Regions from separate parts of the Homo sapiens genome. Here region 2 is linked to region 1. Evidence: fine-mapped expression QTL. Tissue or cell type: hippocampus. Region 1 holds a variant in brackets; the other region holds the start of a gene. All regions are shown on one strand. Distances are between the middles of the regions.

Region 1 (2,687 bases):
GGAATACAGAAGAAAAGATGGCTTGTTCACTTGGATGTTTAAAAACAAACCAGTGTTCCAAATTGCCCTTCCTAAAGTGATTCAAAACACCAGCAAGAATGAGACACTGACTTTTATATTAAGACACCACGATCTCAGTATGACTTGCCACCATGTTGTACTGTAACCTTTTGGCCCACTTTTGACTTCAGTTTCTTTCCTATTTAAAATAGAAATATTCCTATTTCCTATTTAAAACAACAGTAGTGGAACTAATAACGTTAAAACAATTCTTATTGAGCACACAGTTCAGTGTGATGAAAAAATGGAAGTGACTAATTCAGGCAAAGTGGGGAAAAATACAAAGAAAAATAAACAAGAAAAATCTCTTACATAGTTTGGATATTTGTCCCTGCCCAAATCTAGTGTTGAATTGTAATCTCCAATGTTGAAGGTGGGGCTTGGTGGGAGGTGTTTTGATCATGGGGACAGATCCCTCATGCATGGCTTGGGCCATCCCCTTGGTGATGAGTGAGATCTCGCTCTGTGTTCACAGAGTTCTCGCTCTTGCTCCTGCTTTTGCCATGTGAAGTACCTATTTCCCATTTGCCTTCCACCATGAGTAAAAGCTTCCTGAGGCCTCCCCAGAAGCAGATGCCACTATGCTTCCTGCACAGCCTGCAGACCTCTGAGCCAATGAAACCTCTTTTCTTATAAATGATCCAGTCTCAGGTATTTCTTTATAGAAATGCAAGAACAGCTGAACACAATATCAGATATTGAAAAGTGCTATGAAGAGTACTATTTATAATATTGTAATAAAATACTGGTATGGAAATATAGCTGATCTTTGAGGTTTCTCAACCTTGGAACTATTGACATTTTAGACTAGATAATTCTCCGTCATGGAGGGTTTGTTTGTGCATAGGAGGATGTTTTGCAGCCTCCCTGGTCTTTACCCACTAGATGCCAGCACTGTGTCCCATCCAGTGGCCACCCAAAATGTCTCAAGACATGGCCAAATATCTTTGGAGCTATTTACCATTTATATTTACCACTTACCATTACCATGGAAAAAAAATCACTCGTAGTTGAGAACCACTGTGACTAGAGTCACTAGAGAATAACTTCCGGCACCAAATTTTATTTTATATCAGTAGTTTTGGGGATGAGTTCCTTTGTGGTGATTTCTGAGATTTCCATGCACCTGTCACCCGAGCAGTGTACACTGTACCCAATGTGTAGTCTTTTATCCCTCAACCCCCTTCCCACCTTTCCTCTCCAAGTTCAAAGTTCATTGTATCATTCTTATGCCTTTGCTTCCTCATAGCTTAGCTCCCACTTATAAATGAGAGCATATGATGTTTGGTTTTCCATTTCTGAGTTACTTCACTTAGAATAACGGTCTCCAACTCCATCCAGGTCAAGCACCAAATATGTTCTGATGCCAGAATATGACAACATTGTGTACTGAAGCTGTCTCATCCCACCTTTTCAAGAACCTTATAATTATAGTCTATAATTATAGATGCCATCCTCTTCTGTGCCCAGTTGTAAAACTTGCTGAGCTGTTTAACTCAGTAACATTCCAAACCTGTACTGGTTACGAATGGAAAATATCTTCAGACCCTGTAAAATAGATGACAAGGTGTTCTAAACTAGTGACACAGCTAAGAAACTCGATGAATAGAGCTTCTAAGCTGCTATCCAGAGGCCGACAGGAATGGTG[TAG/T]AGTTTCCCCAAATGAAAGCGCCCATCTGCACAGTCATAAAAGATAACCCATTACCATGGCAGGAAATCAAAACTGCAATAAATTTTAAGAAAGAAGAATGATGAAGGAGAAATGGTAGAAAATCTCCAGTGAGAAGATGCTCAGCACATAAAAAGGAAGAGAGCAGTTCAGGCCGTGACAGTTCTGCGCAGGGAATGACCTTGGGCTGTCTGCAGGTGAACCAGGGAACACTTGGAAAGCTGGTGAAAATATTTCAAGTGGTTCCAGGCATTAGTGTTTAGACAAGCCCTTCTCTCTTTCATTCAAATTATTTTCAAGTTAACTAGAAATAATGGCGAAGAAAATCTTTGTCTTTGATTCTGGCTGTAGAGAAATTCCATTTGGAAACTGTTAAGTAGCTCATGAAATTAAAACTCACATCTGAATTAAAAATCCCCACATTCCTTTATGTGTGCTAAATTGTAGGGCATATGCTATAGGAGATTTTTGCCCTAGAAACTTCAAAAACTCTAGGAAATATTTTTAGTAAGCATGAGAAGAAATAATTGAGCTATTAGATATTTATAATAAATAAAAATTGGTTATTATGAGTTACCTTTTCTAAGGTAACTGGTTCATTAGGCTCATATCTTACAGGGAATTGACATTCCTATCTCTCTGCTTATTATCTTCCAAAGTTATCTATATTGCTTATCTACTACGTTAATAAAATTAAAAAAACCAAAATATAAGCTGGGCATGGTGGCGCATGCCTGTAATCCCAGCTACTCAGGAGGCTGAGGCAGGAGAATCGCTTGAACCCAGGAGGCAGAGGTTGCGATGTGCTGAGATCACACCATTGCCCTCCAGCCTGGACAACAAGAGCAAAACTCCATCTCAAAAAAAGAAAACTAACAAACAAACAAACAAAATATAGAAATCTAGATTCACAAAACACAATGATAGAGCAATTTTTTCCCATTGTTTCAGAATAATC
Region 2 (2,687 bases), 300 kb before region 1:
TAGTCCCAGCTACTCGGGAGGCTGAGGCAGGAGAATCGCTTGAACCCGGGAGGCGGAGGTCGCAATGAGCCGAGATTGTGCCACTGCACTCCAGGCTGGGTGACAGAGCGAGACTCCCTCTCAAAAAAACAAAAAAGGCTTTCCTGAGCTCCAGTGCATGCAGCTTTTGAAAGATGGTATTGTTATGAATCCCCTGCAGCGCAACGTGCAGGCTCGCTACTGTAGTGAATGCTACTGGTAAATCAGACCACAGTGATTTAAAACAAAAATCTGCAGGAAGTGAGACCCTGTGACTTGAAAGTCAGAGGGCCAGGGCAAGCCTTGTCAAGAAAAGAAAGCATGAGATCCTAGAATCCTCGTTTGGAAGGGACTCACCTCTCATTTCTAGGGAGGCATCACAAGGCAGTATAGTTTATGAAGACCACCTGGCCATCGACCTGAAATTAAACCAGAGGTGCAATTCACAAACCTCGATAGGCAAGGCAGGTAGAAGTTGCCAGAAGAAACAGTGACTCTCTTTAAGATGAAGCAGCCCAGAACGGCATCATCTCACTCAGGTAGTGCGTCTGAATGAGCATGCACAATTGTTTAAATGAATAAATGTTTTGCTACACTGGGTCCATTATAATTCGAGCCTACACCCCCTCCTAGATCTTGAAAACTTGAAGAACTTCTTAGCTGAAAATAACAGCTCAGCTAAACAGGCATTTATTTGCCCACAAGACCGCATCTCTGAACAGTTTCAACAAGCTAAAAAAACTGACGTCCTTTCCAAAGAAAAGGAAGTCGGCTGCCAGGGGAGAAAAGGCTTCAGCGATGCTTGGAGGAAGGGACTCTGGTTTACGCTGGCTCCCTTCCTAAACACTTCCGGAAGCAGAGCCCCTTCCCGGCCGCTGGAGAAGCCTGGGTGGGACCCCGAGTCGGCCAGTTACAGGATAGGAGGTGCCAGGCAAGGCACTGAAGCCATGCAGTGAGAACAGCGTGAGCGCCTGATCCATTGGGTCCTGCGGCTGCCAGGCCAGAGGCCCCGCGCCAGGAGCTCTTCAGGCGCCGGCTGCTGACAGTTCCAGGCGTGGAGCGCCTTCCCACGTGAAACGCGTCCCGGAAGATACGATCCTCACAACCTCTTCCCTCAAAAACAGACTCGGCAAAGTTAGCCCGGATAAACCTGCCCCGTCGCCCCAGCGCCTCGCGGACGCTCCCCTCCCACCTTCAGGAAACGCGCCTAGAAGAAAGCGAGCTTAATCCGCCGGTAAGGCGGACGTGACGTCACAAAGCGCCGGTTCCTTTCGGCTCCCGCTCCCAGAGGCGCGCAGTGCATGCCGGGCCCTGTAGTTTTTCCGGGGAGTCGGTGCCAGGGCCGAGATTCCCGCGCTTCAAGTCCCGCAGCCCTGGCTGCGTCTTAGAGAGGCGTGAAACCGGATGATGGGAGCCGCTTGTTGGCTTAGATATTCCTTCAACTAGAATGACGTATCTTGCAGCACTCGGCTGAATTTTTTTCTTTTTCTTTTTTTTTTTTGAGACGGAGTCTTGCTCTGTTGCTCAGGCTGGAGTGTAGAGGCGCGATCTCGGCTCACTGCAACCTTCGCCTCCCGGTTCAAGCGATTCTCCTGACTATGCTGTATTTCTATCTGTAACATCACTGTCCAATAGATATATAATTCGAACCATATACGTAATTTAAAAATTTCCAGTAGCCTCATTAAAAGTCAAAATAGAAACAATCATATATATTTTATTTAACCCATACATCCCAAATAGTATTATTTCAACATATAATCAAAAAATTTTTTGAGATGGAGTCTCGCTTTGTCGCCCAGGCTGGAAGCGGCGCAATTTCGGCGCACTGCAACCTCCGTCTCCTGGCTTCAAGCGATTCTCCTGCCTCAGCCTCCCAAGTAGCTGGGATTACAGGCGCCCGCCATCACACCCGGCTCATTTTTGTTATTTTTAGTAGAGACGGGGTTTCGCCATGTTACCAGGCTGGTCTCGAACTCCTGACCTCAAGTGATCCGCCCGCCTCAACCTCCCAGAGTGCTGGGATTACAGGCGTGAGTCACGATGCCCGGGGTCGGTCTGTCTGTCTCATATATATATATATATATATTTTTTTTTTTTTTTTTTTTTTTTTTGAGACGGAGTCTCGCTCTGTCACCCAGGCTGGAGTGCAGTGGCGCAATCTCTGCTCACTGCAAGCTCCGCCTCCCAGGTTCACGCCATTCTCCTGCCTCAGCCTCGCGAGTAGCTGGGACTACAGGTGCCTGCCACCACGTCAGGCTAATTTTTGTATTTTTAGTAGATACGGGGTTTCACCATGTTAGCCAGGATGGTCTCGATCTCCTGACCTCGTGATCTGCCCGCCTCGGCCTCCCAAAGTGCTGGATTACAGGCGTGAGCCACCGCACCTGGCTGCCGAGTCTCAATATTTTAAAAAATACTTATGTTCTGTTCTGTTTTTAATGCGAAGTTTAAGAAATCTGGTGTGTGTTACACTTAGAATACATCCCAATTTGGATCAGCCACATTTCAGATGCTGGATAGTCACATGTGGCTACTGGCTACTGTAGTACAGTACTACTACAGTGTAGTGGGCAGAACAGGTCTAAAAACCTTTGGATTGCCGGGAATAAGTAATATAGCTGCCTGGATACTTCAGGGGCCTTTGTCACCCAGTAACTGAATGCTCT

What was found. PIP is the estimated chance that this variant, and not a neighbour inherited with it, causes the effect.
Region 2: it holds the start of ADAT1, and the variant in region 1 is fine-mapped to the expression of ADAT1 in hippocampus (GTEx, PIP 0.92).

The regions. Positions count from the first base shown.
Region 1 is chr16:75,924,250-75,926,936 of GRCh38, forward strand. No RefSeq gene overlaps it. Among named protein-coding and RNA genes, the nearest start is that of CPHXL, 200 kb to the left of the region's middle. The variant TAG/T (reference allele first, on the strand shown) is at 1,709.
Region 2 is chr16:75,622,028-75,624,714 of GRCh38, forward strand. It overlaps ADAT1 (adenosine deaminase tRNA specific 1), which reads right to left and starts at 1,254. Exons shown (of 10, transcript NM_001324445.2): 1 at 376-1,254. RefSeq lists enhancers at 1-7, 8-527, 528-1,047, 929-1,168, 1,048-1,567.